3 linked regions of the Homo sapiens genome follow. The protein of the gene in region 3 interacts with the protein of the main gene of each other region in a pairwise test. Each region holds a gene or a part of one and is shown on either strand. Other genes may lie near its edges.

The links. Proteins that work in one complex are often made in the same cells at the same time.
Region 1: the proteins of USP25 (region 3) and TMEM43 interact in binary tests that used the Homo sapiens proteins (3 or more experiments, as listed by UniProt).
Region 2: the proteins of USP25 (region 3) and TGFBR2 interact in binary tests that used the Homo sapiens proteins (3 or more experiments, as listed by UniProt).

The regions. Positions count from the first base shown.
Region 1 is NC_000003.12:14,135,052-14,142,729, forward strand, and holds part of TMEM43 (transmembrane protein 43), read left to right. Parts: intron 1-106; coding exon 107-181; intron 182-755; coding exon 756-857; intron 858-4,128; coding exon 4,129-4,246; intron 4,247-6,541; coding exon 6,542-6,744; 3' UTR 6,745-7,678. UniProt on the Homo sapiens protein: May have an important role in maintaining nuclear envelope structure by organizing protein complexes at the inner nuclear membrane. Required for retaining emerin at the inner nuclear membrane.
Region 2 is NC_000003.12:30,609,601-30,617,278, reverse strand, and holds part of TGFBR2 (TGF-beta receptor type-2 isoform B precursor), read right to left. Parts: exon of another isoform or gene 2,619-7,678; coding exon of another isoform or gene 2,573-2,618; intron 1-2,572. UniProt on the Homo sapiens protein: Transmembrane serine/threonine kinase forming with the TGF-beta type I serine/threonine kinase receptor, TGFBR1, the non-promiscuous receptor for the TGF-beta cytokines TGFB1, TGFB2 and TGFB3.
Region 3 is NC_000021.9:15,872,410-15,880,765, reverse strand, and holds the end of USP25 (ubiquitin carboxyl-terminal hydrolase 25), read right to left. Parts: intron 6,364-8,356; coding exon 6,240-6,363; intron 2,971-6,239; coding exon 2,775-2,970; intron 2,464-2,774; coding exon 2,291-2,463; 3' UTR 702-2,290; downstream 1-701. UniProt on the Homo sapiens protein: Deubiquitinating enzyme that hydrolyzes ubiquitin moieties conjugated to substrates and thus, functions in various biological processes including inflammation and immune response.

The sequences.
Region 1 (7,678 bases), on a different chromosome or scaffold from region 3:
TGTGGAGGTGGGAGAAGAGCCTGAGGGGCGTAGCCGAGGCATCCTGGACCTGGGCCTGGGCCAGCTACTCCGTTCCTCACTCTCCCTGCTTCTCTTCCACCCCCAGGTGGGAGACTTGCGTGTCTCCTTTTCCTATGCTGGACTGAGCGGCGATGACCCTGACCTGGGCCCAGCTCACGTGGTAACCTGGCTTCCCAGGGGCAGACACTAAGTCAGAGCCTCACGACTTTCCTGGACACAGACACCTTGGTCAATGTCAGGAGCGCTTGGACCCCCTTTTCCCTGGGGAAAGGCACACTCTCGCACACACTCTCAGCCAGGCACGCTTCTGAGCAGTTTCAGAGCTCCCATGTCCCCACAGCCATCCATGGACCCCACGTTAAGAAGGGCAGCTCAAAAGGGGTCTCATAGTCGCACCTTATGACAGGTGTTCCAGTCACACACAGACCCTCTCCCCAAGCCCGTTTTGATCTGTCAATAATTGGTCTTGCGTTCCTGGCCTATGTGCAGTCCTGCCCCATCCCCTGCTCTGCGCACTGCCCAAGAGCTTTGAATGCCTGGAGCTTTGAATGGAGCAGCTCAGCCAGAGCTGCAGAGGTGGATGCATCCCAGATGGATGTATAGAGAGAGAAGCCCCAGGGTTTCTGTGCTCACTTCCCCAGCCGGCACCCAGTCCCGGGAGGGTGGGCCATGGCTCTCGTGGGCGTGTCTCCCGCTGGTCACCCCTCAGCTCTAACACCAGGTCCTCTGACCAGGTCACTGTGATTGCCCGGCAGCGGGGTGACCAGCTAGTCCCATTCTCCACCAAGTCTGGGGATACCTTACTGCTCCTGCACCACGGGGACTTCTCAGCAGAGGTGAGTGCTGTGCCCTACTCGTACGGTGGAGGAACAAGCATGTCCTTCCTTCCTTCCAGTGGTTATTTAATAAGATCACACTACCAGGGGTCATAGCCAGTGAATGAGGCAAGAAGAAGAAATAGCGGAATGTTGAGTATGCCTCATCAAAGTGTTTGACCAGGAGTGTTTCAGATTCCAGATTTTTTTGGATTTGCAGGTATTTGTATATACATAATGAGATCTCTTGGGGATGAGAACCAAGTCTAAACACAGAATCTATTTATGTTTCATGTATACTTTGTACACATCGCCTGAAGGTGATTTTATACAATGCAACCCGTCACATGGGGTCAAGTGTGGGATTTCCACTAGTGGCGTCATGTTGGCATTCAGAAAGTTTTGGATTTTGGAGCACTTCAGCATTTGGGTTTTTGGATTGTGGATGCTGAGTCTGTCATGAACCCTCAGTGTGCAGGACTGTGCTAGGCACTAAACTCACTGTGCCTCACAGACTGTCCGGTAGAGGAGTGAGAGTGACAGAAACTCGTAAGTACTGATGCATCGTGCCGAGTGTTGGAAAGAGGAGAACAGGTGCTCTGATACCAGTGGACGTCAGAGTAGAACATCCGTTTCTGCAGTGATCAAGCAGGGCCTCTGACAAGTGAGTTTTGCTGACGAGAAGGGGTTAACCCTAGAAGAATCAGTGATCAGTCAGTTCCAGCAAGAACAGCCCAGTCTGGGCACGAAAGGGTTCACCTTCTAAGGGGGCACCCGGAGTGCTGTGGCCACAGCCCAGAGCGGGGAGAGGGAGTGGGTGGGGGGGCTCCACCAAAGTCTGTGTCCTTCCAGAACATTAGGAGGGCGGGGAAGGGTTTTGGGCCTCAGCTACCTGAGTATCCCTCTCCCATTGTAAATAGGGAGGGCTATGCCTACCCCGGGTCCCAAGGAGAAGGGGTGCCAAGATGTGCTGATTAGTTCAGTTCTGTGCCTTAAAAGTTAGCCTGTCTTCTCTAGGCAGGCAATCCTTCTCTGCAGCAGAAGAATTGAGTCTTTAGTTTTTCTGTTGTTGATGAACACAGGTATCCCTGGTGGGGCACTCTATACCTGCCCTAACCAGGACTGCTGGGGTTTTCATTCCAGAGTGGCCAGAAAGGGTCAAGGCAGCAGACAGGCATCAGGGGTTAGCTGTGACCTTTTGTTCCTATTATTAGATCCTCAGCAGCCATCTGTCCCATTAGCCTCCAGCTTGTGGTGGTGCTTGGGCCTCACCAACTCCTGGTACCTGGCCAGGGCTAGGGTGTGGTCAGGCTGTTGCCCAGGAGCCCAGTTACCAACCTCAGGGTAGGGCTGCCACCTCCCAGCCTAGAAGGCCATGAGTCACCCTTCCACCAGCAGCTGAGGGTCCCCAGCGAGTTTCTAAAATTAGGAGGCCCAGTCCAGGCCTTGCTCTCTCTCCCAGGGCTGAGGCCCAGCTCACGCAGCCGCCCCTCCAGAGAGGAGTGGATGGGGCCCATGGCTTAGGTAATGCCCCAGAAAGGAAGGCCCTGCAGTGCAGATGCTCAGGCGGCCTCCTTACCCCCTGGGTCTCCTGCTGCTTAGCAGCCCCAAAGCCCTGTCTTCCCCCAGCCCAGCCCCCACCCCCACACAAGGTCTGGGGTCTCTGCCAAGTAGAAAAAAGGCCCAGAGCCAGGCAGGCAGCTCAGGGCAAAAGTCAGGATGCCCCGATTCCAGTCCCAGGGGCAGGAGAGTACAGCTGCCCAAGCAGGCACACTGCAGACGGCCCTGGCACTGCCTCCCACCTGCTACAGGACCTTGAGCTGGTGCTGATCTCTCAGCCTGTTTCCTCATTTGTGAAGGGGAAGATGTTTAAGTACTATTAGTAATAGTCACATCATCCCTAACTGGTTTGGTCATTGAGGATTATTCATTCATTCAGCAAGTTTTCATTGAACACCAGGTACTTCACAGACATGCTCCCTGCTCTTGGAAATGTAGCGTTTAGTTAACTGCTTGAGGTGAGACCTTGGGCACATGACTTATTCTCTCAGAGCCTCAGTTTCATCATCTGTAAAGTGGAGGTAAGTATTCCTACCTCACTGAGTGAATTTGAGAATTAAATAATACTTGTAAAACACTTAGGACAGTATCAAATAAATGGTGAGTGATAAATGTGACCTGTTTTTGTTGTTACGGACTCTGAGAGAGGGCCCGATTCAGATCAGAGGGTCAGGGAAAGCCCTCTGAAGAAATGGGGTTCAAGCAAAGCTCAAAAGAATATGTAGGAAGCTGGCCAGGCATGACTGCAGGCAATCGTTGTAGGCAGAGCAAACCCACGCGCAGATACACAGGCGAGAGGACACTTGACCTGGACTGGGGACAGCAGCCAGCAGGGTCAGGGCACTGGCAGCAGGGTCGGTGTCCGGGGGGTGTGGCAGGGCTCTGGCAGGTGACTGTGTGGAGAACACAGAGTGGGTGATAGAAGCAGGGCCAGTGAGGCTCCTGCGGGCAGACAGTGGTAAGAGACTCGGGAATATGTGGCCTGGACTGGATGGGGTGGTAGGGGAGGAGCGAGCCATGTCTTTCCCATAGATGTGAGTGGGTGGGTGGGTGTGCCATGTGCTGAGATGGAGAAGGCGCCAGTGTCAGCACTAGACAGGCTGAGATGTCAAGTGGAAATGTCAAGGAGGTGGTGGAGGTGGTGGGAGCTGCAGGGCTGTGAGGCCCGGGAGAGGGCCAGAGCTGCAGCTTTAAATTGGAGGGTCACGGCATGTGGAGGCCAAGGAAGCAGATGGGATGTCCGGGGAGAGAGTATGGACTGAAGCAGCTAAAGAATTGCAGCATCTAATGGACAGGAAGAGGGGCAGCGACAGCGATGGAGCCTGAGAAGGAGGGTGCAGTGTCCCCAAGCCATGTGGAGAGGTTCTGAGATTAAACAGATCACACACATAGCGCAGAGCATGCTGCCCAGCAGACATCCTCCAACCTGCTCAGGGGTGGTGGGCAGGGTCCTGCTCATTCCAGGTGAGACCGTGGGCTGAGGGCTCCAGGTGCTGGCAGGCTCTGAGCTGAGGAAGGCCCGTACGTTCCACAGAGATCTCATGCCTTGCCCTGTGCTCTGCCAGATGGGCAGAAGGACTTAGCCCTATAGGAGGCTTGCCCCCACTCCGTCTGGCCTGTTCAGAAATGGCCAACAGCTCCCGAGTTGGTACAGCCCCCTCAGGACCTGCCCTGCCGACTGGGTACGCCACTGGCCCTCAGCATCCTGACCTGCCCCCACCTTGTCCTGCAGGAGGTGTTTCATAGAGAACTAAGGAGCAACTCCATGAAGACCTGGGGCCTGCGGGCAGCTGGCTGGATGGCCATGTTCATGGGCCTCAACCTTATGACACGGATCCTCTACACCTTGGGTAGGTGTTGGGGTGGGTCACTGCCCTCCCTCCTGCACCCTGAAAGGGCCTCCTCTGCCTGTCGCATCATCTCAGCCCTTCCAGCCTGATGGGATGGCCCTTGTGCAGATACCAGGCATTTGGCTCATCTCTGTGTCCCCGCTCCATAGCCTTGGGATGAGGGAGCAGAGGAAGGCAGGCTTGAGGGCAGGAGCTGCCAGGGGCCAGGCTGGGTGGGGCCAACTCTGGGGCACTGGTCTCACTCCACAGCCTGAAGGTTCGTCCATCTGCTGGCTCGATCATTTGCTCATTCCTTTGATCCACAATTGAATACCACATGGGAGCCTGCCAGACCTGCATTTGAAATCTGTCACGTCCAAGCTCTGGATGCTTGGCCGTTCCCTTCCCATCTCAGCTTCAGTCACCTCACCCCTTACATGCAGAGTTTTATGAAATGTGGCAAATAGGAAACACCCAAAACTCTCATGCTTCCTTCCTCACTCCAAAACCTGGGCTAGATTTGGGCAGCCAGCAAGTCTGGAGCATGAAGGAGAGTTCTGGGCCACTCCTTGACCTGAGGTTGGCACCAGTGAGCCCAGTAGGAGACCTGTGGCCCAGCGTGGTTCGGGATCTGAGTGCCCAGGGTGACTAAGTGCGTTCTGGGCCCAGGAGGATGGGGTTCCTCGGAGGACTCTCCATCCAAGCCTTTCCCTGGTGTGTGTCCCTTCCAGTCACATGATTGCATCAGTCTTCTCTGGGTGCCAACAGAAACCTCTTCCCCACTCAGCATGCACAAGTCAGAAGAGGTCTGGCTGCACATCTTGGGCTGTCTGAGCTGGGGGGACCACCTCCTTTGTTTACAGTTGGGAAAACAGGCCCGGGAAGGGAAGGACTCTCCCTGAGCCTTTCTTTGGACAGCTGAATTGTGCTCAGAAAGACCAGTGACGTGGTGGGCACATTAGCGAGAGATGAGCATTTAAACGGAATCCTCTTTCTTGCCTGTGTGACCCTGGGGAGACCAGTTCCCTTCTGGAGCCTTGGTTTCCTCGTGTCTGTCTCAGTGGGCCCTTCTTTGGATCTCTGATGTCTGTGATCCCAATTCACTCTACGTCTGGAATGCGCCAGACTCAGGACAGACTTAGAGTGTGGAGGGACCCCCAGGGTGGGTGGGGAGAGTTGGGAGCGCAGCAGGGAAGCACACAGTTCCCCATGCGTTTGATAAATACCAACGTGTGTAAGACTCCACAGCTAGAGACAGACAAGACTTAGAGCAACAGCTCAGAGCCCAGGCTCTGGGCCCATACGGTCTTGAGTTCAAATCCTGGTTCTGGCACTTTCTAACAGGAGGACTGGTGGTGAGTTTCTTAATTCCCTGAGTCTCAGTGACCCTGTGGGTAAAATGGAGTTAAGAAGAGTACCTACCTTACAGGGTGGGCATGAGTGCTTCATGAGATGGTGCACATGGTGCCTAACACAGGCAACGTTCAGAAACATGAACTTTGCTTATTATAAGGGCTGAGTAGCAGTGCTGTATGGGAACAGATCAGGATGAGGCCAGGTAGTGGCTTGCAGGGTGTGCTGCAGGCATGGTGGGGCACCAGGGCTTGCTCTGCAAACCCAGTGATTCCAGACCATTGGTGGCCTCCTGGGAACTGAGCGAAGATTCCCTGAGTGGACATCAGCTATGGAATGCCAACCTGGAGAGGTCACACAAGGCAAGAATAGGGTAATTCCTCATGAATTTAGCTGGATTCTGGGCTTTATCCTATTGGACCAATAGTCTGTGAGATTCTTGAGGAGAGGCCAATGCTTAGGCTAATTTATTTCCTCTAGCACCTGCTGGTTCAGTGCTGGGCACATAAATCATTAGTAACAGCCTGCTGCATGAATGAACCAACACCTCTAGGAATGGCTGAGAGGCCCAAATAGGCACCTTCAGGAGGCTCCACCCACAGCCTCTTGTATGAGTGTGCAGGACCCAGGTTATTTCTAGCATTACAGGCAAATGTCTTTATACTGGCCTCAGACTACTCTCCACATAAAGTATTAAAGTTTACAAAGCACTGCTACATCCTCTCCCCTGGATCAGGGTAGAGTGGGTGGCTTAGGCAATGTGCCCAACCACGCAGCTCATAGCAGAGGCTCCTGTGCTCCCTTAGCTTTCAGAACGAAGCTCCTTGCCTTCCACCCACTGATCCTCTCCCCTCCTCATGCATGTAGCAACATGGGCCCATCCTCATCTAGGGACAGGAGAGATCTGCTGAGCTGGTGAGGTGTAGAGCAGGTGGCACCTCATCACCTTTCTCCTTTCCACAGTGGACTGGTTTCCTGTTTTCCGAGACCTGGTCAACATTGGCCTGAAAGCCTTTGCCTTCTGTGTGGCCACCTCGCTGACCCTGCTGACCGTGGCGGCTGGCTGGCTCTTCTACCGACCCCTGTGGGCCCTCCTCATTGCCGGCCTGGCCCTTGTGCCCATCCTTGTTGCTCGGACACGGGTGCCAGCCAAAAAGTTGGAGTGAAAAGACCCTGGCACCCGCCCGACACCTGCGTGAGCCCTAGGATCCAGGTCCTCTCTCACCTCTGACCCAGCTCCATGCCAGAGCAGGAGCCCCGGTCAATTTTGGACTCTGCACTCCCTCTCCTCTTCAGGGGCCAGACTTGGCAGCATGTGCACCAGGTTGGTGTTCACCAGCTCATGTCTTCCCCACATCTCTTCTTGCCAGTAAGCAGCTTTGGTGGGCAGCAGCAGCTCATGAATGGCAAGCTGACAGCTTCTCCTGCTGTTTCCTTCCTCTCTTGGACTGAGTGGGTACGGCCAGCCACTCAGCCCATTGGCAGCTGACAACGCAGACACGCTCTACGGAGGCCTGCTGATAAAGGGCTCAGCCTTGCCGTGTGCTGCTTCTCATCACTGCACACAAGTGCCATGCTTTGCCACCACCACCAAGCACATCTGTGATCCTGAAGGGCGGCCGTTAGTCATTACTGCTGAGTCCTGGGTCACCAGCAGACACACTGGGCATGGACCCCTCAAAGCAGGCACACCCAAAACACAAGTCTGTGGCTAGAACCTGATGTGGTGTTTAAAAGAGAAGAAACACTGAAGATGTCCTGAGGAGAAAAGCTGGACATATACTGGGCTTCACACTTATCTTATGGCTTGGCAGAATCTTTGTAGTGTGTGGGATCTCTGAAGGCCCTATTTAAGTTTTTCTTCGTTACTTTGCTGCTTCATGTGTACTTTCCTACCCCAAGAGGAAGTTTTCTGAAATAAGATTTAAAAACAAAACAAAAAAAACACTTAATATTTCAGACTGTTACAGGAAACACCCTTTAGTCTGTCAGTTGAATTCAGAGCACTGAAAGGTGTTAAATTGGGGTATGTGGTTTGATTGATAAAAAGTTACCTCTCAGTATTTTGTGTCACTGAGAAGCTTTACAATGGATGCTTTT
Region 2 (7,678 bases), on a different chromosome or scaffold from region 3:
CAAGTGTCTGCAAACTCTACAGAAATGCAATTAGAGGTTGCGGCAGCTACTCCCCTGCCTAAAACAGCAGTCTGAAAACTGCCAATCTGTTGCAAATTCTGTCTTTTCTGAGAATATTTTAAGAAAAGTGGTAGAGAAATATTTGAAAGGCAACAGAACACTAATTATATCTAGACAAGTTTCCTTTTTTTTTTTTCCCAAAAAATATGAAAGTTCCTTTAGGCTTTACATCTCCTAGGCATAGCAAAGCATTTCATAACTTTCTACCTTAGGAAAAATTTTCACAGACATTTTAACCAATTCAGAGGAAGGGGAGAATGAAAATACCATAATTAACCAAAGAGGAATAATATTACCACCAAAACCAAGTAAGCCTTTTATTTAGGAAGGAGTGAGCTCTAGCTGAAGTAAACATGCTATTTAGTCAGGATGTATGCTCAGACACCTGTAGTCGGAAATTTTCAAAATAGCTATGGTTTTTTTTCTTCTCTTTTTTTAATAGTAGTCATCTCCAATGAACACCAGTGGAAGTCTGTGGTATTTCTCAGTTCTGACCTGTCATGACTTTTGTTAGTTTTCTATTTTGATTAGCTAAAGATTTTCTAACTCAACTTCAATGATTTATTCTACTAACAAAATAGTACAGGGATAACAAAGAATGAAATGTTTCAGAAGAGAAAATACTGGAAATCTTATTTAGTCCAATTCTTGTCACTGTATAGAAGGAAAATGAGCCCCAGTGGGAAGAAAGACAGCCTGGTCACCCAGACACCTAGATTCCTGGTACAACATACCTTAGTCTTTACCAGCTGTCTCCTAGGTAGAGTCCTTCTAATCTCAAACTAAGGGTCAGAGCTAGGTTATCTTTCATCCAAGATGAAGGTTTGTGATAATTACATCTTTGCAACTTCTTTTCTACTTGGCATGGGGCTCTAAAGTAGGAAAATGATGAAGGGTTTAGCTAAACCTGGAGGAAAAATATTTTGGTTTTGTGAAATAACAATGCAGATTTCAGTCTCTGTTTGCAATGGGGGGAAGGAGGAAGAGGCATTTTTTAACATTTATTTTCTAAACCAACAAACAAATCCTACCATTAGTCAAAGACTCAGGTCTTTGGAATCTGAAGCTTGTAAATTTCAGGGGCACTCTTTAAGAAGAAGAATACAAAATTAAGAATAAAGTGAATATAAAATTAAGAATAAAGTGAATATTTATTTAGAATTAAAATGGCATACAGGCCGGGTGCAGTGGCTTACACCTGTAATCCTAACACTTTGGGAGGCAGAGGTGGACAGGTTCCTCTGAGCCCCAGTGTTCAAGACCAGACTTGGTACATAGTAAGACACCATCTCTACAAAAATTAAAAAACAACAAAAAACAAAAAACTGGCCGGTCTTGGTGGTGCATGCCTTTAGTCCGAGCTACTCTAGAGGACTGCTTGAACCTAGGACTCCAAGGCTGCAGTGAGTTATGATTATGCAACTGCTTTCCAGACTGAGTGACAGAATGAGATCTCATCTCTGGAAAAAAAATTTTAAATAGTATCATACAAACAACAAATTTTTAAAAGCTATAAATACTACAAATATGAAGTGTTTAAAAAACAAATATTTTTATTAACTGATTGCCATACCTCTGAAATAATTCTCCTATATTTTTTGGTTGCACACTCTTTGATCATCTCTTCCAATAACATTTTGCAATATTCTCTATTGAGAGAATAGAAAAATAATTCAGTCTTCCCTTTAGAAATGTAGATCAGAATTTGTAATTTATTCTTGAATAATTTGGAAAAGTTCCTTTCAGCTTCATAATTCATTACAGGTAATGTCATATAAATTTTTTGGATTGACTTCAAATTTGGAAAACTTTTATCAGGTTTCTTTTATATGTGAGCTGTAAGATTCAGGGCACTGCAAGATTTCGTAGTATTTGACTTGATGACACTTGTTAACCACATTGCCAGGGCCTCTCCTAGAGCCAGGAGATGGACCTATACCAGGGTATAGGTAGCCTTGAAGGTTAAGTTCAAGCACTTCACAGTAAATCCACCTGAGCCTGGCATTTATATCCTCAACATATTTGATGCATCTGTGAAGTCTCCCAGTCCTTTCAAATAAAGTGCCTGTTTTACTCAGAATACCTAAACTTCCTGATGGCATAATTGTTCCATGATTCAGCCAAGACTGTATCACTTGAGGTATACACTTCATTTTTCCATTGAGATCACAAGACAGGCATGATGTTTGACTACCTGGTGTATAAACCGAGTGTTATTTTATTACACTAAGAAAATGCAATGGGATAATATATGAAGAATGCTAAAACACTAGAAAAATGTTGGATATTATTATTTCTCTTAACCTCTAGTCTTCCAACACCCATGCTATAATGGACAAGTAGTTTATGTCAATTAAGGCAGACTAGTCTCAGTACAGTATAACAATTAGGAATCTAGATCCCCAAACCAGACCATCTTGGTTCCAACCCCAGCCTAATCATTTTCTAACTAGGTGGACTTAGGCAAATTTATTGACTCTGGAGGATTTATAATAAGCATAATATAACCTACCTTCTAAAGTTGTTTTGAGGGTTAATACACCTGAAGTACTCAGCATGATCCGTGCAGTAGCAAGACCTCAATAAGTGGTAGCTACTATGATTATTGGGAAATTAGTCCATGAAGTCTCTTGAGAAAAGCTACAGGGGAAATAAGCCCAATTTCATTTCCCTATGTAGAAAAGTTTGCAGGATTTGGGCGTGACAGGTAGTCATCCACAAAGCAGCAGTGTTATCGCCCCATAGGAAATGAAGACTTCGTAATGATTTATACTTTAATAAAGAGCTGCTGCAGCATATACTGAAAATATGCACCCAACCCATATCTTCTTTCAAAGGCATTCATGTTGGTTCAACCAAATCCCTAGTTCTCTAAAATGAAGTTTTGACAATCTTATATCTTCTAAAGCACTGAGAAGCCTTTTTCCTTGTTTTCTTTAAAGAGGCTTGAGAAGAACCAAGCCTTTTTTTGGTTCAAATAAAATATTTACAATAGGAGGAAAAAACATTCAGATAAACTTCACCTTGCCCGCCTGGTGGTCTCTCAATACACAGAAGAAATGCAACTAGGGCACTAGGAAATCTAAAAAAAAAAAAAAAAAAAGGAAAGAAAAAAAGTATAGAGCTAAAGTTCACTTCAGGACAACGCAAACTAAGAAAAACTACATTTCCCAAAGGAAATAGAGCACTATGTCTACAAAGTAACTCATTTTTTCTTTAATGTTCAATGTTGTCTATTCCAGGGAAAAAATGGTACAATTAACCAAAACTTATTTCTACCCAACATCTCTGCAAAGGAATGTTGCTGCTGCAGATCCACCCCCAACATGGGAAGGCCCAAGGCAAGTGAGCAAATAGAGGCCCATGTACCATAAGTCAAAACATTTAAAGTTACAAATCAAGCTAGCAAACTGCTCAATAAAATAGGTGTTATCCTTCTACCTAGACTGACAAATATATCTTTTCAATGTCTTGGAAGACCAGGTACAACTTTAGAACTCCTACAATGTTCATAGTCCTTCCACAGAAATGGGTGGTTTAAAGAGAGACATCATCCTGAGCCCTGGTAATCAATTTGCCTTCCTCCCCCCTGCCTGCTCCATCCTACATCAAGAGGGGCCTTGTGATATGTGGACACCCAAGCTCGCTCTCTGTCTCTCTCTCTCTTTCTCTCTCTCTCTCTCTCTCTCTCTCACATACAGACACACACACACACAGAGCTATCCCTTAAACAACCCTCGTGCAGAGATTGCACAACCAGTAGCAATGACAGCCTTCAGGAAGATGGCTTCAAGGATCCATGCAAACTGCAGATACCAGTTCAGGGCCTTCTGGACAGCGAATGTGGGTTCCCACATAACCAAATCATGGTCTAAAAATGAAAAGAGAGTAAGACTGGAAGGCCCAAAAGTCACCTCACCCCATAGGCATGGCTCTGACCAGAGAAGAATGACAGCAGAGTACCATCTAAGGCCCAGGACAGAGGCCAGTTGTGTTCATATACTAGGTCTATATTTTAGTTGTAGAGCTGAAAAAAATTGGAGGAAAATATTCCCTCAGAAAAGAGAAGAAAAAAAAAAAAAAAAAAGAGCTGCATGTCTTGACCTTTCCCAGATAGAATCTCCCCAGTCATAGGTACGGGCCCTGAAGCTAAATCTCATCTAATAATGATAGCTTCAAACCTACAAACAAAACACAGATGCTAGGGAACCCTTAAGAGTCTAAGCAGGAGGCCATAAGTAGACTAAACTGACTACACCCAAGAGGATAGTTGCTACTTGTTGGGTGCTAAGACCTAGAAAGCTGACTGTGGCAAGTAAAAGGCAGAAGTACTCCTGATGTAATGGGTGAGGAAGAGAATCTTAACCTCCTATAAGTTTTCAAATTGTCCCCTTCAAAAGTCAAACTGTCCCCTTCTTCTTTGTTATGTTGGATAAAGTCGGCTCTTCTTGCCCTCATCAGCAGTTGTACACGATTGTACACAAATGATTGTCCTACACACTCAAAATTTGGGGTTTACAATACACATCTTTGCAAATGGGGTATGTCCAACTGCTATAAGTGGCCAAACCACAGGTCACCCACCATGAGTCCTACCACTAAGACACCATTGTCAAACTGTGGGCTGTAGAGTTTCCTTATGCAAAGAAACTCTGCCTTATCTTGATTTTCTGTGGTACAAATGTAGTCAGGAAGGAGGCAGATAATGCAAGCAAACCAAATCAATTAAATCAGGAGCACTGAACTGATGACATTAGATGGTAAGCTTCCCCTCTCTCAAATCTGATATCCATTCACCCCTCTTCAGCCTCCCTCCCAACACACGCATACACACATAGAGACCACACGAAAGAACCTAGCAGCATGCAAGCACAAGAAGCTTGGGCCACACACTCATACATGCACCCAGGCAAAACTCCAGAGAGACCCTGAGCAGGATCCATCTTTCCATCCATAAAATAAAGATAATAAAACTTATCTTGGAGATTTCTTCCTAGGATTAAATGAGATACATAATATCAAGTGGCTGTCTCAGGGTAGGTTCTCAAATGTTAATTGTCTTTCTCTTCCTTCTCCCTGAGATGAGACAATTTGCCTGTCCAGCATTCCAAACCCTTTGGCATGCCAAGCAAAGAAGTATGAGTCATTATCTTGCCTCAGTCACAAGCAACAAGTACCTGTGGAGCAAAATATTACCAGGAAAGTAGAGAGTGCAAAAGAAGCGGTGAGCATTCTTGCTGCGAATGCATATCTGTTCTACTGAAAATCATAACTTAAATCTGCTGAAGTTGTACATAAGGACCTGGAGGGTAGAAGCTAACAAGGTAACAGAGTTATGCTTTTATGTGGAACTTGGCCAAATAATGCCATGCTGTAGCCAGGAAGTATGTTTCCCCTGCACCCTATTTAAAACTGCTTTGGTGGTTTGCATCAGACCTAAATAATATCCACGCTACTCTAGAGTAGGCAGTGGTGGCTACAAGACCACACTTCCCTTCAACCAACGCTGCTTCACCCTTATAAACCAAAACATAAAACCCAATGAAAAAAGAAACTTAAAAAATAAATTTAGATTTTAGCACTTCATTCGTAATAAAATTCTCTTTCCGACACCCTTCTATGAAAAAAAAAAAAAAGAGGAATCAGTATCTACTGGATAATTCCTCTGGTGACTTTATTTAAAATTTTGCAGTGGCTTTCAAGGCCCTACACTGATTCAAAATTTATGGCTAAAGGAATTGCATGAAAACTTCTAGCAGCTTTCCATCATGTTTGTCAGAAGTTGAAACATCTTTTTCCATATTTCATGAGAATACAAGAACCAATTCCATACTTCAAAAACAGTCAAATTACTTATTGTGATCAGAACTAAAACTATTCTAACTGAAAGTAAAGATTTTACTATTTGGACCAAACACCTAACAAACAGTGACTGCTTAGTTAAATGCTCGACCTCAGTTGCATTAGATACAGTAGGATGAAGTGGAGGCTCAGCTCAGCACTTCCTGGGTGCTAAATGATGTGTCAGGCACTGCCAGAGATCCCAGAGATAGAAAACTGAATAAGATTGAGAGGATTAAAGGTATAATGGGCAAGAGAGTTACGTAAAGATATGACTTTGGCTTGGTATTGTTACCAGCTAAGTGAGAGGTCTGTATCTCATAGGAGACATTTACCTCAAACTGGGACATTCAAAGCAGGTTTCCTCAAGAAGATGACACTTGAACTACGTCTTAAAAGATGAGTGAAAATTAGCCAGGTAGCAGGAGTTCCAGACATCCTGAACAAAGGAACAGCTGCCTAAATTGCTCACATTGTGTGTATGTGTAGTGACACAAATAGACTGGGAAAATGTGGGCTGTGGTGGGATGTGAAGCAGCAGAGTCAAATGGGAACCAGGTCAGAGGCCCCTGGTAAGCCCAATTAAGGAGTTAATAGTAATAACAGAAGCTGATATTTATTGAGCATTTACTATGTTGCAGGCACCATGTTAAATACTTTAAAACAATATTTTATTTAATCCTCACCATAACTCCATAATCCTCATTTTACAAATGAGACCAGGGATGACTAGTAGGTAAAGCAACTACAACAGGCTACACAGCCAGTACATGGCAAGTGGGTCTGGAACCCAGGACGGCCTGATTCCAAAGTTTATACCCTACACTCTTCTACCACCAGCCTATCCTCAAAGAGAGCACTAAATGAACGCATTGGGTCCATCATGCTGGCTATGGAATGGAGAATGCAATTAAAGGCTGCCCAACTGGGGCTCCGTGACAAGGCAGGGATAGGAAAGAGACAACAAATTGATTCAAAAATACATTCAATGGGACCTAGAAGGAAACATTCAACATGCACATCCTCCTAGTGCATACAACAACAAAAAAAAATGAGGCTTTTGAAAATGAGGTGTAGAAAATAAAACACCAGTATTCCATAATGCTTTCAAATATAAACAGTTAAAACACGTATCCTTTTCTTTACTTATAACATGCTCCCAGCTGTTAAATTCAATGGCAAAGACCAGGTCTGTCTTATTCATCTGAGATGGTATCCCAGGTCTGAGCATCCTGCCTGGCAAGAGATACTCAATAAATATGGTTGAAAAGGTAGAAGAAAAAATGCCCAGTTTTTGCAATGATATCAGAGGTGCCTTATTGATCCAGAGTTAAAAACTAACCTTACTGAAAAAATTAAAAAGTCATGTTCATAACTGAGTAGAAAACATGTAGTAGTTATGTTGACTACATAGACAACAGTCATCATTAGGGAATGCTACATTGAAAAGAAGGCAATGAGTTCAAAATGTGATTAGTATTTTGTATAAATCATAACTCATTAAAAATAAGATGTTGAGTGGCCTAAAGGTGGAAATGTGTTTTTATGAGGCGGAAAAAAAGCACGAGTAGACTGAAGATCAGATTTGGGGCCTAATGATGTCTAGTCTCTTACCCTGACAAAATAAGCAGGTTATTAAAGTGATGTGAAGAACCTGATCACTATGACACTTTTACAAATTCTTTGTCCTCAATAAGAATCTATCTACTTCCAGGAACCTGAAAAGTCATATTTTTCAGACCTGAAGAGTTATTGTGCACTTTACAGTTTTCCCCAA
Region 3 (8,356 bases):
AAGAAAACGTACATATACGCCATGGAATACTATGCAGTCATAAAAAGGAATGGGATCATGTCCTTTGCAGGGACACAGATGAAGCTGGAGATCATTATCCTGAACAAACTAACATAGGAACAGAAAACCAACTACTGCATGTTCTCATAAGCGGGAGCTAAACGATAAGAACATATTGGACTCAATGGTGGAAGGAACAACACACACTGGTGTCTGGCAGAGGGTGGGGGCTGGGAGGAGGAAGAGGATCAGTTAGAATAGCTAGTGGATGCTGGGGTTAATACCTGGGTGATGGGATGATTTGTGCAGCAAACCACCATGACACACATGTACCTCTGTAAGAAACCTGCATGTCCTGCACATGGACCCCTGAACTTAAAAGTTGGAAATTTAAAAAAAAAAAAAAAAAGAAATTTCAATGATCTAAACCTTACAATTAGATTAAAAACCAATATTAAAATAAGTTGTTTCTGTAGGTCTTGAAAAAGGTCACTTTTCTTTAAATAAGTTATTTCAAATTCATTACTAGGAATAAATAATCTGGTTTTTAAGTACATAGTAAATACAATTATAATACTTACCTTCAGCACAAGAGTGACATGATTCTCTGGATGTGACTTTGAAGGAATAATTTCCATATAGTGTTTGGGCACTTTGTATCTCAGCAGTCAATTATACACAAACACAAACAACTTTACCACTGTGGTAGAATGTCATAAAATATTAAGGATACTTTCTTTACAAAAGCTGTGATGACACATATGAAGTTTCTAAACTTTTAACAGGACTGGAAAACCAATGCAGAAATCTGCTCAGTAGACAACTTAAAATCTAAACCCAAACATATTTTGATAGATACAATATGCAAAATCTAACTTTACAACAGGAATAGTACTAATTCCTTGTCATTAACACCTTACTAGTACATTAATACCTTTACAAACAGCATCATATAATAGCATAATATTTCATCTTACTCCTCCATCCAGGATCTTTTGTGAGAGGCACTAATAAAGAACACTAGTTTTGGCGACGCTGTATCAAACATACACATAGTATAATGGTCTATTTTACTATGTTCACAAAACATCATTTATAAAGAAATTTTTATGAATTCAAAAATAGGTTGTTAGTAACATGATTACCTTTAAAGTATGGATTTTGATTTTCATTCACAATATTAATTCATTAATCTTAAACAGTAGTTTCATCTACAAAATGTTCTACAGCTTTTTCCTTTTTGAAAAGGAATAAAGGCAGTTAAGATACTCATAACTTCTAGTTAAACAACATCAATTTTGTTTCACAGTATTAATTAGTAGAGAACATTTTCAATTAAAGTGATATACAATTTACAAAAATAGAATGATTTATATATTGCAAAACATTGTCCTCCATTATGAAGAATATATATATACATGTGTGTATGTGTATATATGTGTATATATAAATATTTCTTTTAAATTTTACAATAGCCCTTATTCAAGTACTTTGGGATTCTCTTGAAATAATCACCTTGCTGTATATTGTAAATACATTTAAAAAGTAAGATTAATCTAAGAAAAGGATAAAAGTTTCAGTGTAGTTTGACTTAAAAAAAATCAACCACTTACTTGAGTAAAAACCTGACTGAATTCAAAACAGGTTCCGGTGCCATACTAAGTTCAAGAACTTTGTTAAAAATATAGATAAATTTAAGTGTCAAAGACTTAAACATTTTCCAATTTGCTAGCATTAGAGCAGAATTAAAAGATTGTATTAATCTATTAACTATCCAATCTTAATCCCCAGACAAAATTCATTTATCTAGTATTACTAATACACTAATATACAATATACCTGCTTACAAACACATAGGTAGCCATAAATAAAACTTTATTCTTTATTTCATTTACAAGCTACCAAATATTATGTATCGTACACAGTGCTGAACACTTAAATGGCTGTAGTCATGGAAGGATCCAGACTGAATGGAAAGCTGTTGAGAAAGAAAAGATAAAAGCAAAGTAATACTGCAACAGGAAGGTGGCAAAAGCATAGTTTTGCCATAATAAAATCAATTAGATTTGTGATTATACATCAGTTCCGGTTAAAATGTCTGAGCGCCATGCGATTTTCAGCTTTATTGTCTGCAGTCTGACTAAAGTCTGTATAGTCATTTTGTCTTTTGCAGTTATTAAAATAAAAAAAAGTTAAAAACTATAGCAGCAACAAGCAAACCCTGTGACAGGAAGGCAAGGGTTAAGAACTAAAAAGAGTTTATACAGTGTGTTCAGGGAAAGTGTGCAGTTTATCTTCCATCAGCAGGAGTTCGACTGAGGGACAACATGATTCGGGCAAATCGCTCACAGAGTTCATGCGTGGAATATGAAGGTAACTTCGGTGGCTCATGGAAACTTTTAATCTCCATAGAACAATCAAGCAGTTTTGGCAAAAAATCTGTCAGCTTTTCTTGGAGGTGTGCTGCAAATACAAACAATTAAATCTAACTAAAGATAGAAATTATTACACGATCATTGTCAACATGATTTACTAATATTAACTTACTCTAATAGGTAAGATAATTGCCATTTTGGGGAGACAAAAACATAAATGGCAACTGCAATGCACACAGCTTAGTTCATCAATATGGAAAAAGAGTAATCATGTGAATGTGAAAATATTAATACTTAATATTGTATTTAATATAAAAAATGGCAAGAATAAATAACATCTAATTCTAACTGCATTTAATCCGGACATCTCAGGTGCCTACTACCATTGTTTAAACTTACGTTCCATTTCTTGACCAAGGTAGGAACACCATCGATTTCTCATATCTTCTACAGCTAGTATATCCTTTTCTTCCATTTCATCCACCAGTAATAATGGCAAAAATGGGACAATAAACTCATTCATGATAATCAAACCATTGTTTACTTCTCGATCCTCTCCAGATTCGAAGAGTTCTGCGGCTTGCTCATTTAATTTCTTAATGCAATGCAGGAAAAAAAAAAGAATAGGTTTTTGTTTCCTTTTTAAATTAAGGATCTGTAAGTATTAATAAGGAAGACAACATAAATATGTTCACAAACAGTATTAGAACAAACGGTATTTAGAGAAAACAATCTCAACCTATCTAGAACTGAAAATCTCTCTTTAGAAAAAGCTATGCATATGGCAACAACAGAAACAAAAGCAACAGCGGTGGAGAAAACATTATTGTGTTTTTCAGTCATGTTTGGCTTATGCCGATCATCAACACAGGGGCCATTTTTTCTTCTCTAGAGATTAACTTCCCCAAATTATAAAATTGTATAAGCACTCAAAATAGTTTTAAAAATAAAGAAATTCAGAATCCATATTAATTTTTGAAAAACTCATCTCCATTAATGGCAACTGAATATATACTATTGTATTCCTTGATACAGAAATATAAAGGTAATCAATTCACTTTTCCCTTCAAAAACTTCCTACAGAGTCAACACCACGTGCCAGAAATTTCTGCAGATGCAGGGGCACTCAAGTGATTAATACAGAAAACTCTCATGGAGCTTACAATTTGGTACAAGGATTGGCAAACTTTTTCTGTGAAGGGCCAGACGAGGACTATTATAGGCTTTGAAGGCCATGAAGTTTCTGTTGCAACTATTCAACTCTGCCATTGTAGTACAAAGACAATAATACCCAATATATAAATGAATGTGCATGGCTATGTTTCAATAAAACTTATCTATAAAAACAAGTGGTAGGTGGAGCACAAGCCATAGTGTGCTGATCACTGATCTAGTAGAACAGAGAAATCCATGCAATAAGAAACATAAGAGATAAATACAGGTATAAGACCTATAATATTTAAGGGTTCTTATTTAAAATCTTATGTTTACAGCATGATAAACATGACTTTTAAGCTGAATTTCAAATAAAAAAAGTTATATATTTAGATTTACACCACATAATTCTTATGCAATTTATTTTGATTTTGGAAAGATGGTTGTGCTATTAAGTCCAACTTGGCCATGAATCAATTACCCAATTGATATGGTTAGGCTTTGTGTCTCCACCCAAATCTTATCTTGAATTGTAACCCCCAGGTGTTGAGGAAGAGACCTGGTGGGAGGTGATCAGATCATAGGGACAGTTTCCCCAGTGCTGTTCTTGTGACAGGGAGTGAGTCTCATGAGATCTGATGGTTTCATAAGCATCTGGCATTTCCTCTGCTTGCACTTCTCTCTCCTGCCACCATGTGATGAAGGTCCTTGCTTCCCCTTCACCTTCCGCCATCATTTTAAGTTTCCTGAGGCCTCCCCAACCATGTGGAACTGTGAGTCAGTTAAACCTCTTTCCTTTATAAATTACCCAGTCTTGTGTAGTATCTTTATAGCAGTGTGAGAACGGACTAATACACCAATCGTGAACAGATTAGCTAAATCTGTTAGCTTCACTTTCTTTATATTAATAATAGGGTATTTTATCTTCCAACCATAGGGGTTAAGAGAATAAAATGAGATAAATCTTCAAGTATTTACTACAATTTTTGGAAGTATGCATTAAATGATATATAAAATTTAATGACAAGTTTAATGTTAAGTTCACTGAATCAAAGAATGTCCTGGAAATCTCTTAAATAAAACATGTTCAAAGCCAACCTTGTTCCTCCTATTAGACTCCCTAATATTAAACGAAAAACTAGTAAGTTTGGCAGCTTTGACTCTTCCATTTCCTTCTTCCCACTCACCCAACAGCTATGACATGCCGATTTCATTTCCTTCACCATCATACCTACCGTACTACATGAGTTGAGGTCCTCACTCTCCGTCCCTTGACTTTCCCCTCTAAGGTTCTTGACTTCAATCTACTTCTTTCCTGTTCATCCTCTAGAATGCTATTATTATTACCAGAATTATTTTCTGAAAACAAACCTCATTATGCCAAACCTAATCAAACTTACACTGGTGCAAACTCATTTGAATGTCATCTAAGTTTCTTCATCATCTGACATCGACAAGTATTGTCAGCTTCATCACTTCCACCTTACCCCACTTCCTCATAACCTGGATAGCCACAGTGAATTTATCTTGATTTTCTGTTGTGTACTGGAATATTCTCCCTTCTCTATCATGAATAAAACTTCTATTTATCCATCAAGATCCAGACGAGGTTTACCTTGTCTCTTAAGGTTCTTCCCAAATATTTCAGGCATATCATTGTGCATATTTCTCATAATGGCACTTATTCCAGAACAAACAATTATGTCTCCTACCAGACTGAGTTTTCTGAGGACAGGAAGTACATCTTACTCATGTTTGTATCCCTCAGAACCTGACACTTTGTAAATATACAACGTGAAAAAATCTGAAAGGAACACTAAAGTAATCTTGACGAGGTTTCATTTCAATTCCTATGTAAAACAAATAACCAAATGTGGCTGGGTTACTACAAAAAATGATGAGAAACATTATACCATTTTTTGAAGGTTTCAGAGGAACCATCAGGTTTTGGTTCTATGTATGTTTAAAGTCAGCTATACTATTCTTGTACCTGAAAATTCAATTTTTTAAGTTAAACAAATTACTCTAATACATTCTATGTATATTCTTGTTTTTTTGAGACAGAGTCTTGCTCTGTCACCTGGTTGCCAGGATGGAATGCAGTGGCGCGATCTTGGCTCAAGGCAACCTCCACTTCCCAGGTTCATGCGATTCCCCTGCCTCAGCCTCCTGAGTAGTTGAGACTACAGGCGCACACCACCATATCCAGCTAATTTTTGTGTTTGTGTATTTTAGTCGAGATGGGGTTTCACCACGTTGGCCAGGATGGTCTCGATCTCCTGACTTTGTGATCCACCAGCCTCAGCCTTCCAAAGTGCTAGGATTACAGGCATGAGCTGCTGCGCCAGCCTGCATATTCTTATAGACTTACATAAAACATTTTTTAAGGCTTATCTATGCATCCCTTCCTCTCCCACCAAAAAAAGGAGTGGTAGTGTGATGACGAAATCTAAATACAGAAATGTAAACAAACTGATGCTATTTTAAGAACATTTCTCATTTATCACCTATAGTACTTGGGATTCATAAAGAGAAAAGAATAAAGTACTGAGTGTACTTTTCCATCTGAAGGGACTAGAACCAGTTTATAGACATCATCATGTTCTTATCCCCTCAGAGTTTATGGAGTCAATCACTTATATATGAGTCTGGAAAACTTGCCCAATGTCAGACAAAATGATAAGATCATACTATATGCATTCAACTTACTAGCAAACATTCTCTTCTATAATGTGATATCAATTCTTCATCATGTCCTCTGTATAAGCCTTTAGACAAGAGTTCTTTGTTATTCTGATAAGCACAGATGAGGAACAGCAAGGAATCTATATAACTTGAAAATTAAAAAGAAACATATAACATTAGTATTTCACCTTTGTAGAAACAAAGTCAGCTATAATTATGAAACATTTTAAGTATATGCTTAAGTTTTGATAATCTACATTATAATAAAAAATATCATCTGACGCAGTGTATGCTTGAGAGCGCCTTTTTAGCAACAGCAACATCTGAAACCCAGAGATAGTTATCTTAAAAGTAAAAAAAGAAGAGCTATAAATTAAGAAAAAATCTGGGAAAAGAGGCAATAACTGATAAAGTCAGATAGTTCTGTTTTCCTTGGTATTTATTTTCCTGATGTCTTCCATTTAAACTCAAAATTGGAGCTAATGTGAAAGCCAACAATCTAATTGTTTAACGCAATGTCACATTTATATGAAGTAAATGATCACAAACATCATTTGGTTTGTTCAATGACAACTTAGACAGGTTCTTTTCTATGTGCAGACAGTTTTAGTTACTGAGAAAAATGTAAAAAAAAAATAGAAATAAGAATATCTAAAGGAAATAGAGGAAGTGGACAATGAAAGATTTCTTCTAAATCTGGGAAACCTAGTGGAATAAAGCAAAAACAAAAAGCCTGCAAACATAAAAAAGCTGATAGAGGCCGGGTGCGGCGGCTCACACCTGTAATCCCAGCACTTTGGGAGGCTGAGGCAGACGGACCACCTGACGTAGGGAGTTCGAGACCAGCCTGACCAACATGGAGAAACCCCGCCTCTACTAAAAATACAAGATTAGCCGGGCATGGTGACACATGCCTGTAGTCCCAGCTACTCGGCAGGCTGAGGTAGCAGAATCCCGGGAGGTGGAGGGTGAGGTGAGCTGAGATCACGCCACTGCACTCCAGCCTGGGCAACAAGAGCAAAACTCCGTCTCAAAAAAAAAAGAAGTGATAGAATTAGGCATATGTGTTATATTAATGTAAGTCTAGATATTATGAAATTCAAATTAGGTTTTAAAAAGGGAAGAAAAGGGGCCAGGCACAGTCGCTCATGCCTGTAATCCCAATACTTTGGGAGGTGGTGGTGACAGGATCAGCTGAGGCCAGAAGTTCAAGACCTGCCTGGCCAACATAGTTGACACCCCCATCTCTACAAAAACATTAAAAAAAAAAAAATTAGCTGGGCATCGTGGTACATGCCTGTAGTACCAGCTACTCAGGAGGCTGAGGAGGAAGGACTTCTTGAGCTGAGAAGGTAAGAGGTTGTAGTGAGCCATGATCATACCACTGCATTCCAGCCTGCGCAACAGAGCAAGACCCCAACTCAAAAATACAAAACAAAACAAAAATGGAAGAAAAAAATATTTAATAAAGAATTACTTTTACCTCAAAACTATCCTTCTAACATGTCAAAATAAAAACTATATCTAGCCAAGTATTTGTATAACTGAAATAAAAAATATTATTTTAAAATATTTCCTTTGCGTCAGTTTTTCATTAATATATTTTTTCACAGATTAATATGGAAAAATATATTTTAAAAAATGAAATATTGTAAAGAAACACAATTTTAAACTCTAGACGCTCCTGCCAATAATTACTGTTTATTACTTAATTCATGTACTTAGATACAAAATAAATCCATTCCACATCCCAAATGTTAAATGTAAAATTATTTAAAAATTAATGTATACATTCATGGCAAATCAAATTACACACCTGAAGGTGTCATGATAAATAGGTCTATTTTATACATTTTTTGAAAACGGCTTTCTAGGAATTTGTTTTTGAGATTAAGTATAACATTTTATTTTGAAATGATATTAGGTTAATAAACATATTCTCAGTTAAAGATGTTATTTATGAAAAACGAAGGAAGTGATAATATTAAAAGTTGTTTTACAACATTAAGTTGTAGTAGTTCGTTAATTAATAAGTAACTAGCACATCTATCTTTTCCTTTATAGCTACTGAGTTTCCTGTTAAGAAGATCTCTCCTGAATGACACTGACATCTGGCTTTCTAGACCTGAGTCACCTCTTTG